3 linked regions of the Homo sapiens genome follow. The protein of the gene in region 1 interacts with the protein of each later gene in a biochemical or structural test. Each region holds a gene or a part of one and is shown in the gene's direction. Other genes may lie near its edges.

Evidence for each region.
Region 2: the proteins of PPP2R5C (region 1) and CIP2A form a complex in vitro, tested with the Homo sapiens proteins (one study listed by BioGRID).
Region 3: of the proteins of PPP2R5C (region 1) and MBP, one has a biochemical effect on the other in vitro, tested with the Homo sapiens proteins (one study listed by BioGRID).

What each region holds. Positions count from the first base shown.
Region 1 is NC_000014.9:101,759,642-101,763,394, forward strand, and holds the start of PPP2R5C (serine/threonine-protein phosphatase 2A 56 kDa regulatory subunit gamma isoform), read left to right. Parts: upstream 1-2,067; 5' UTR 2,068-2,252; coding exon 2,253-2,279; intron 2,280-2,728; exon of another isoform or gene 2,729-2,755; intron 2,756-3,263; coding exon 3,264-3,329; intron 3,330-3,753.
Region 2 is NC_000003.12:108,568,688-108,572,440, reverse strand, and holds part of CIP2A (protein CIP2A), read left to right. Parts: intron 1-2,833; coding exon 2,834-3,052; intron 3,053-3,753.
Region 3 is NC_000018.10:77,126,087-77,129,839, reverse strand, and holds part of MBP (Golli-MBP), read left to right. Parts: exon of another isoform or gene 1-1,480; intron 1,481-2,191; exon of another isoform or gene 2,192-3,753. UniProt on the Homo sapiens protein: The classic group of MBP isoforms (isoform 4-isoform 14) are with PLP the most abundant protein components of the myelin membrane in the CNS. They have a role in both its formation and stabilization.

The sequences.
Region 1 (3,753 bases):
GCCTCCCTAAGAGTTCATGGCCATAAACCAATAGTTTCAGAGCTACTCCTTTTTGATATGGATATATCCTGGACTTATTAAATTGACAGCACATATTTTATTTTTAAAATGTTATTAAGTTAACTAGGGGCATCGCTCTATCCTCAAAATTGTTTTGGAGACACCATTAACCCACTTAAATTATTAATAAAAAAGCCACTTATTCCGCACAAATAGTTGAGACTGTCCTGCTTACCTACAGATATTCGTCTAAGAGCCGGCAGACATTCAGATACCCGCAGACAGAACTTACTTTCTGGACCTCCCACAACATTCCTCCCTTTAGATCTTTTTTTTCTTACCCCGTCTTTCAGCTTTCTCATTGCAGAACTGCTGAGAATAATGGAAAATGCTTTGCCTGGAAACTTCCAAGAACAAAACTCCGGGGGCTAAGAGAACGCGATGATTTTTAAGCTGCCAGTTAAGATGCAGCTCCTTCATCATCACAGGTGAAGCACCAATGCCTCTCGCACGTGAAATCCGTACGCTCCTAGAGTCTTACTACCTAATGCATTTCTGCAATCTGGGACGCCTGTCCTTAGCGTCTTCAATAGTTTTGGGCACGAGGTGGACCGCGGAAGTATTGTATTGAAAAGTTAACGTTTTTCCCTTGGACACCCTCTCCTCACAGCTATTAACAAGCTGAGAGAAATCAGGTGACTCCCAGTCATGCAGAGGTTTCCTCACCATTTATGATCAAGCCAAATTAAAGAATAAAAATAAAATCCTATTGGCGCAGCGGCCACCAAGTCTTTGAGGCCTCGCCTCGGTGGGCGGGGCCGACGCCGGAGGAGAGGGGCTGCGCATGTGGGCGTGACCTCGCGGAAGGAGCTGCGGAGGGCGGGGCCGACTGGAGAGGGGCGGGGCTGTCGGGTGGGTGGGACCTCGCGGCAAAAGCTGCGGAGGGCGGGACCAACCAGGAAAGGACGGGACTGTCGGGTAGGCGGGACCTTGCGGGAGAAACTGCGGAGGGCGGGACCAACCAGGGAGGGGCGGGCTGTCGGATGGGCGGGACCTCGCGGGAGGAGCTGCGGAAAGCTGAGCTGGTGAGGGGAGGGGCTGGTCGAGGGGAGGGGCTGGTCGAGGGGAGGGGCTGGCCGAGGGAAGGGGCCGGCCGAGGGGAGGGGCCGGTCGAGGGGAGGGGCCGGTCAAGGGGAGGGCCCGGCCAAGGGGAGGGGCCGGTCGAGGGGAGGGGCCGGTCGAGGAGAGGGGTTGGTCGAGGGGAAGGGCTGGCCGAGGGGAGGGGCTGGCCGAGGGAAGAGGAGGGGAGGGGACGGGCTGGTCGAGGGGAGGGGAGGGGAGGGCAGGGGACGGGCTGGTCGAGAGAAGGGGAGGGCAGGGGACGGGGTGGTCGAGGGGAGGGGACGGAGGGGAGGGGAGTGGAGGGAGAGGAGGGAAGGGGAGGGGAGGGAAGGGAGGGGAGGCGGGGCCCAGCGGTGTCCCGCGAAACTGCCGCTCGCTCGGTTCCCGGGCCTCCCCGTGCGCCTCAGTGCAAAGCGTGCCAGGCACTCTTGACTGCAACGAGAGCCGCGGCGGTGAGGGGGCAAGGCCAAGAGGCCACGGTTCGCGTTTCGCCGGCTGCAGAAGTTGTTGCCATACATTTCAAATGTGCATTTCCTACGTCTCACGCTCTGTCTTGCGCCTCCACAGCGGGCCACGGCCCTGTCACCGCAGTCGCAGCCACATGCTCCCTCCCCTGAGTCGGCTCAGCTCTGCTCAGCGGTCAGCCCCGCGCCAGGAGGCCGCGGCCTGCCTGAGGCCGGCTCGCAGCGACTCGGGACGGAGGGCGGGGGCGTGAACGGGTCGCGCGGAGAGGGTGGGGGGAGCGGGGAGCGTTAGGGTACGTGGGGGCGCGTCGACCAATGGCAGGGCGCTGTTGAGTGCAGCGGGGCGGGGCCGGGCGCGGGGGTGGGGCGAGCGGCGGGCGGGGCGGGGCGGCCGGCCGGGGGGTGGGAGGAGAGGGGCGGGGCGGGCCGGCCGGGGGAGGGGCGGAGAGACGCCGCCGCTGCCGCCGCCGCCGCCGCCGCCGCCGCCGTGGCTGCCGCAGCCTCTGGGAGTCTGGAAAAGGGGAAGCGAGAGCAAGCGAAAGACTCAGTCCCCGGGCGGCGGCGGCGGCGGCGGCCGCGGGGGCGCGACGGCCGGGGCGGGGGCGCTGCTGCTGCGGGGGCAGGCGGCGGCAGGGGCGGCGGCGGCGGCGGCGGCCCGCTCCAGCCATGCCGAATAAAAACAAGAAGGAGAAAGTGAGTCCGGGCCCGGCCGCGGGACGGAGGGAGCAGGGAGGGACTGCCGGGGGAGGGCGCGACGGCACCGGGGTCCTGCGCCCGGGCCCCGGCTCAGTTCCCCGCCTGACGCCGCGGGCTTCGCGTCCCCGAGGGCGGCCGAGCCAGGCATCCCCGGGCTTCTCTCGGCCTCATGCCCGGTGGGGGCGGGGAGCCCGGGGATCGCGCCGGAGCCGCGGGGCGCAGGCCCGGGCCGCTGGGACCTTCGTGATGGGCCGGGGCTGGGCGTGGAGGGAGGGCGCGGCCCGGGGAGGGGGTCGGAGGGGCGCCCGTTTCCGACAGCGCGCCGTGGGCTTGGGCGGGCAGGTGCGGCCGCCGAGGGGGTTCGCAGCCTCGCAGGCTCCCGGAAAGGAGCTTCAGGGATGGGGGCTGTAGACGCCTGGGGAGGGACCCCTGTACGGGGGAAAGGGAGCGAGAAGGGACCCCGCTGAGAGCTGGTAAGGAATTCTCTGCCGCCCCGGAGGGACGCTCTGGGGCTCTCGAACACTATTATTATCCTGGGTGGCGGCGGCGGTGAGGGCTGCGAGCAAGGGTGCTGCGTTTGCATTCGGGGGGGCGGGTATGTTTCTGCTTCAGGTGGAGCTCTGTAGCGTTTCATTATCACCCCAGAAATCCTCACTCATAGGGTTTAGGGTGGGAGGGTAGAAAGGGATGTGATGTGGATCTCAAAATGCCAGAAGCACTGTATAAAATTGGATTTATCTGTTTTCTGCTTGAAGTTTTCAACCTCAAATGCAGATAAAACGAAAAGAATCTGAATGGGGGTTGGGGGGCATTGCACTGTTGGAATCCTAAACGGTATGATATAGAATTTCCTAATGGTATGAATTAAAAATATCAGAAGCTGTAGTTGTATAAATCACTTTTAAAACTGCATTTGGCTTATCTGATGTTTACCTGTCTAAAAAGTGAGAAGACTAATTGACTTTGCTTGATGTTTACCAGGAATCACCAAAAGCAGGGAAGAGTGGAAAAAGTTCAAAAGAAGGACAAGACACAGTAGAATCAGAGGTAACTGTCATCAAATATTGACTTTGTATTTTATACACAGCTTTTAACTTCAGGTAGAAAAACCGAGAGTGATAAAGCCTAGAATCTTCTAAAATGTTTCCCTATGTGAGGTTTTTTTTTTGTGGTGTCTTTTATAACCCTCAATTTTAGTTGTTTAGGTATTTACTGTTTTGCTTTGGAAAACTATTAATGATTTTATGAAAATTGTGCTTGCCTATGGGGTTTGTTTGTGGGTCTTTTGGGGTTTTTTTTGTTTTTTATTTTTTTGAGACGGGGTCTCACTTTGTCACGCAGGCTGGAGTGCAGTGGCGCAATCTCTGCTCACTGCTACCCCTTGCCGCCCAGGCTCAAGTGATCCTCTTACCTCAGCCTCCCAAGTAGCTGGGACCACAGGAACATGCCACCACACCCAACAAATTTTTTT
Region 2 (3,753 bases), on another chromosome or scaffold:
ATAAATGACGCTGGGTCAATTGAATATACATATGGGGAAAAACTGAAATTTGACCCCCTTCCTCATACCAAATGCAAAAATCAGTATAAGACAGGTTGTAGATTTAAATGTGAAGAGTAAAAATAAGGAACGTTTTAGAAAAAACACCTAAAGAGTATCTTCATGGCCTTGGGGTAGACAATGATTTTCTTAAACAGGAAACAAAAGCACTAACTATACAGTAAGAAAGTCGATAAGTTGGGCTACATTAAAATTAAGTTTCTATTTATGAAAAGACCACTAATAAAAGAATGAAAAGTCAAAGAATGGGAATAGATATTTACAATGCATATATCTAACAAAGGACTCTTATCCAAAATATATTATTTTTCTACATTGTATGTATATATCCGAAAAAACACAGAGCCGAACAGATACTTGAGCAAAAAAGTTGAATTGGTCAATAAACATGAAGTGATTTACCACTTTATCAATCTTAAGGGAAATGCAGATTTAAATGGTAGTATCATACCATCTGACACCCACCAGTTGATTAAAATGAAAAATAAGGAAAATAGCAAACATACTTTAACTCTCATTTAGTACTTACAGAACAACCAATTATGAAAACTGGTATCTATTAATACTGGGCATATGTATAAACTACGACCCAGAAATCTCACTTATAGGTATTTATCCCAAAGAATTGTTTACATGTGTACAAAATGTAGTACTGCTCCTAATAGCTAACAATGATAACCCAAATGCCATTAACAGTGGAATATGTTCATTTTGGGAAAGTCATCTAGCTCTGCACTAGTAATTAGTTTTTTTACTTTTATATGTGTACATTAAAAGAAAACTAATGTACATGGAAAGCTATCTGCTTCTATGTTTATAACGGACATATGGTAAGATACACAAACAATTGGTAACATTGCTTGCCTACAGGGTTTGTCTTTTGAACCATGTGAATGTATTACCTATTCAAAAATAAATATAGTCATGCATTACATAATGACATTTTAGTCAATGACAGACACAGACTTCTTATTGCCTATGACATTATGGCCATTCTAACATGGTGGTGCAATGCATCACATGTGTTTGTGGTGATGCTGGTGTAAACAAACCTACTGAGCTGCCAGCTGTATAAAACTATAACACATATTAAGATTGTATACAGTACATAGTATTTTGATAAACGTGTTACCACTTATTCTTTGTTATTTTAGAGTGTACTTCTACTTATAAAAAAGTTAACTGTAAAACAGCCAGGCAGGTCTTTCAGGAGGTATTCCAGAAGAAGGTATTGTTGTTATTAGAGATGACAGCTCCCTGTGTGTTACTGCCCCTGAAGACCTTCCAGTGGGACAACATGTGGAGGTGGAAGTGGTGTTGATTACCCTGGCCCTGTGTAGACCTGGGCTAATGTCTGTGTTTGTGTCTTTGTTTTTAACAAAAAAAGTTTAAAAAGAAAAAGCCTACATTTTAAAAATAGAAAAAACTGATAGACTACAGATGTAAATAAAGTATTTTTGTATAGCTGTACAGTGTGTTTCTCTTACTACAAAAGAGTCAAAAACTTTAAAAATGGATAGGTTTATAAAGTTAAAAAGTTCTGCTAAGCTAAGGTTAATTTATTAGAGAAATTTTAAAAAATAGTGTAGCTTAAGCATACAGTCTTTATGAAATATACAGCAATATACAGTAATGTCCTAGGCCTTTACATTCACTCACTACTCAGTCATTAACTCACCCAGAGCAACTTCCAGTCCTGCATGTTTTGTTTATGGTAAGTGTCCTATACAGGTGTACCGTTTTTGATCTTTTATACTGTATTTTTCTATGTTTAGATACACAAGTACTTACAATTGTGTTATAGTTGCCTACAGTATTTAGTACAGTAATATTCTGTACAGTTTTGTAGCCCACGGGCAATAAAGGGACGTAGTAGGCTCTACCATCTAGGTTTGTGTAAGTACACTCTTACGATGTTCACACAACGGAATTAATGATGCATTAAGCAACATATGCATCACTAAGTGACACATGACTGTACTACAGTTTATTAAAGATTATCATTTGTTATAGTAAATGCTAATGGACTGGATTCTTTTAAATTCAGATACTATCAAGTTGATTAAAACACAAATCCCAATTATATATCATTTGTAAGAAACAGACTTTTAAAAAGTTGGAAATAGAGAGACAAGGAGATCTTAAGAAATTTTTTTTTTTTTAGTGATAAGTTGGTAGTATGTGAAATGAGGTGGAATTTATCTTAACATCTAATAAACTGGTTGATGGGGGATGTTATGGTATAAGGCCCAGTTTATAAAGTAGAGGAAAAATGGGGTACAGTAGGAGAGCTAAGGGTCATAATGCCAACCGTATGCAAACAGTGTGGAAATAACCATCCTGAAGGTTTTATATTCTATGCTACAGTATCCTTTATAGCGGTTATTGAATTTTAGGATTATAACAAGTATTACTAATTCTAATTTTATTTTTTAGGGTTTTTTTGGTCATTTATAAACAAAACAGGTTTCTGTTTAAAAATAATTTAAGTACTATGGAAGGAGTGGGAGGAGTTTAACGTTGGCTGAAGTTGACCTTCCCTCTGAGGTTCTCACAGTCCTGCTTATCAGGAGTAACCACCATTAATAAGTTTATTTTATAATCTTCTAGAACCTATTCACACATTTGAAAAATAATATTGAAAGAAAAAACTTAAGTTTTGTTTTAGAATATTTTCTTTAAAATATGTAGCATTTTCAGCTTCATCATACACTTGCTTTGTATATTAAAGTTCTGTGAAATTGATGTTTAATGAACACTTTATATTGCACAGGTTTTAGAATTACTTCTTGCCTTCTGTTCAGTGACTCAGCTGCGCCATATGCTCACTCAGATGATGTTTGAACAGTCTCCACCTGGCAGCGCCACTCTGGGAAGCCATACTAAATGTTTAGAACCTACTGTGGCTCTACTGCGCTGGTTAAGCCAACCTTTGGACGGATCAGAAAACTGTTCTGTTTTAGCATTGGAGTTGTTCAAGGAAATATTTGAGGTAATAGGATGACTGACAGATTGACTTTTCTACTTTTGTGACTCTCAGTTAACAATTTGTCTTCAAAAACATTCTTTGTAAACTTACAGTTCATACACTTGAGGAAAACATCTCAATTACTAACAGTCATACTAGACTCGCTAGGTTTTTTTCTGCCAGTCATATATATTAGTGTTTTCCTTTTTTTTCACTGAGTAGTGTGTATGTATATATATATATAGTGCTCATTTCAGTGTAATAAGTAAAGATATTAAAAAGATTTATATAATTTGTTGCCTGACTACTGGGGATAGTTACATTGTCTCTCCATTGCAATAGATGCCATCTACCAAGTTTAGTAGGCCATTGAATGGACAATAGAGGCATATTGGATTCAGTCAGTGAAATGGAGTAGAGCATGCCAGATAATGTGCTAGGCACTTAAGATACAGACAAAACTCCACATTCTGGTAGATCTTACTATCTGGGCAATTTAATATTCTCTACTATTCTCCCTGTTTATAAATCCATTCTGTCTAACCCAATATCTCCTGAAAGTATTTCCCTTCACATAACTGGGTCTTACACACAAACAAATATGTGTATGAAGTGATTAAATATGTTCATTAAGAATTATTCACAAAATTTTCTATTTTATCTTGGTCTTGATTATTTAACAATCAGTTTTAACATTTAAAAAGCCCTTTGAGGGTCTTGAGGGA
Region 3 (3,753 bases), on another chromosome or scaffold:
CAGGCTGGTCTCAAACTCCTGACCTCAAGTGATCCACCCACCTCGGCCTCCCAAAGTGCTGGGATTACAGGCATGAGCCACCGCGCCTGGCCTCTAATTACTCTTGGGATAATTTTAAATAAGTGGCCATTAAGTAGTAAGACACTTCTGTTGGCCCATTGGAACCCGTGAAGGAAGCTCTGGAGCTGTTTAAGGGAAGAGTGCTCATGCCACAGGCCCTAATGCCAGCTGAGCAGAAATGCCAGGCGAGTAGCTGGAATAGTCTCTACAGGAGATTTTAAATCTCTGTCAAAACCTGTAGTGGACAGGCTTCATCCAGAGAAACAGAAGCAGGTGGAGATACACATTAGAGACTCATGGCAAGGAATGGCTTATGCAGAGGTGGGCTGGCCAGGTTTGTGGGACGTCTGTAGGACAGGCCAGCCAGAAGGCAGCTGATCTCCCCGGCCGACTGAAGCTGCCTTCCACAGCAACATCTCCCACATGCCAGCAACAACCACGAGTGCATGTTCCAAAGCTATTAGTAATGTCTCACACTCAATAGCCATTAAAGCGTAAAAATGTCATTCCGAATGTTCTTTTGTTCTGGACTCTGTGAATAGCACTGCGTTGGTCTGAGTCACCATTGTGAAAAATAGGTGGATATCTAAAAGATGAGGAGAAACAGACCTATGTGAGGCCAGGATCTAGAATACAGAAACAGTTCTAAAATGTGGTAATTTGAAACAAGCCACTCAAGAGTAAAATATGAGACTAATGAGAAAACCCAGATGGACTGATAAAATAAGAAAAGGACTTTAACCCTCTGGGAATCAGGGAATTCAAAACTAAGATGGCAAAAAGATTTTTTTTTACCTTTACGGTACTGGAAAAAAATTTAAATTGTGACTATACCAAATATTAGAGAAGGTGTAGAAAACTTAGACCTCACATGAGTTCGACTAGAATGTAAATAGGAACAAAGATGTTAGAGAATAATCTAGAAAAAGTGAAGGTGGGTGTATCCTAAGATCTAACAATTCCACTTCTAGGTATCTCCTCTAGGGAAAACCTGGTCTGTGTGCATAAGACACACACAGTGGATATTCACTGAAGCAATGTAGTAAAACCCTGTTTTGAGATCATGTAGATTCACATGCAATTCCCTTCACCAGTTTCTCCCAACAATAACATCTTACAAAACCATAGTACAATGCCACAACTAGAAAATGAGCATTGATACAACCCATTAACTTTGTTCAGATTTCAGATTCCACCAGTTTACATGTACTCATTTTATAGACTGCTCTGTGTGTGTGTGTGTGTGTGTGTGTGTGTGGTATGCACGTGCGCTTAGTTCTCTGTAATTTTATCACCCATGTAGAACCATGTGACCACCAACACATCAGAGGACAGGAGAGTTTCATCACAGGATCCTTGATGCTACTCTTTATAGCCAAGCTGACTTCCTCCTTCCCCCTCCCTGAGGCTGGCAACCACAGTATGGTTCCTATTTTCTATAATTTTGTCGCTTTAAGAATGCTCTATAAATGGAATCATACACTATGCAACCTTTCGAGACTGGCTTTTTCCGCTAAACGCAATTCCCTTGAGACCCATCCGGGTTGGCAAGCATGTCCATAGGTGTTTCTTTTTAATTACTTAGTGGTGTTCCGTCATCTGGATGAACCAAGGTGTGTTCAACCGTTCACCCAGGAAGGGCACTTGGATTATTTCCAGGTTTTGGTTATTGCAAATAGAGCTGCTGTGAACATTCTTGTACAGGTTTTTGTGTGAACATAGTTTTCATTTCTCTGGGATAAATGCCCAGGAGTGCAATTGCTGAGTCATATGGTTAGCACATGTCTAATTTTATGAGAAACTGCTAACTCTTTTCCAGAATGGCTACACCATTTTGCATTCCCACCGGCGGTGTGTGAGTGATTCAGGACCTTCCCAGCCTGGGCAGCATTTGGTATTGCCACTATTTTTTTTTTTTATTATTTTAGCTCTTCTAATAAGTGTGTAGTGATATCTCCTGATGGTTTAATTTGCATTGTCCTGATGGCTAATGACATCAAGACCTTTTTATGTACTTATGGCCATCTGTGTATCCTCCTCAGTGAAAAGTCTGTTCATGTCTTTTGCCTACTTTTTAATTGGATTGTTTGGTTTTAACAACTGAGTTTTCCTAATTCTTTATATTTTCTAGATGCTGGCCTTACCACTCGGTGATTATTTTCTACCACTTTATCTTGTTTTTTCACCCTCTTCACAGAGTCCTTTGCAGAAAGTTTTACATTTTGTTGAATTCAAGTTTATTAATTTTACCTTTTTTGGATTTTGATTTTTGGTGTGAAGTCTAAGTCTTCACCTAGCCTGAGGTTCCCGAAGATTTTCTCCTTTTTTCCCTACAAATTTTATAGTTTCACATTTTATACTTAAGCCTATTTTCCATTTTGAGTTAATTTTTGTATGAGGTGTGAGGTTTAGGTTGAGGCTTATTTGTTTTGGTTTGGTTTGGGTTTTGCCAACGAATGTCCAATAGCTCCGGGACTATTAGTTGAAAAGGTGATCCTTCTTCCATTAAATTGCTTTTGCACCTTTGCTAAAAACCGTTTCCACTTATTGCTGTGGGTCTATTTCTGGGTTCTCTATTCTGTTCCATTAGTCTATATGTCAGTCTCTCTGCCAAGAGCACACTGTCTTGATTACTGTAGTTGCATAGTCAACTTTAATCAGGTGGAGTGACTTCCTTCCACTTTATTATTCTTTATAAAACTTATGTTAGCTATTGTAGGTTCTGGGCCTTTCCATATGAATTTTAGAATAGCGCGTTTATGGGTGCAAAAACCTTGCTGGGATTTTGATAGGAATTTCTTCAAATGTATAGATTAGGGAGAATTAATAGTTCTACTGTGTTGAGTTTTCCAATCCATGATCACAGGTTGTCTCTCTATGGGTAATTAGGTCTTCTTTAACTTCTTTCATCAATGTTTTATAAATTTCAGTGCACAGATTCTGAATCTGAAATTTCTTTACAGTGTACATAAGTGTTTTATTTTCTTTGGGGCATTTCTAAATGGCATTGTGTCTTAACTTCAGTTTCCACGTTTATTGTGGAGTAGGTAGAACTGTGAGTAATTTTTATGTGTCAGTCCACATTCTGCAACCTACTGAGCTGCCTTATTAGATCTAGGAGGATTTTTTTTGGTAGATTTCTTGGGATTGTCTATGTAGATCATCATGTTATCTGCAAATTGGATAGTTTTATTTCTTCTTTCCAATTTATATACTTTTTATTTCTTTTTCTTATCTTACCGTACTGGTTAGAATGTCCAGTGCTATATTCAATAAGAGTTGCAAGAACTTGCCTTATTCTGACCTAAAGGGCAAAGCACTGAGTTTTTACCACCAATTATGATGTAGCTATAGGATTTTTATGGATGTTCTTTATCAAGTCAATAGTCCATGTCTATTCATGAATGTGTGTTGTATTTTGTCAAATGTCTTTTCTGGGACAATTTATATGTTCATGAGATTTTTCTTCTTTGACTTCATGGTATGATGGATAGTTGATTGACTGACTCTCTAATGCTGACCCACCCTTGAGTATCTGATATATATTCCACTTAGCCATGTATATAACTTTTTTATGTGTTGCTAGATTCACTTTACTAATATTTTGTTGAGGACTTTTGCCTCTAAGTGTTTGTGAGATATTGATCTATAGTTCTCATTTTTTGTATAGTCTTTGCTAGTTTCAGTATCAGG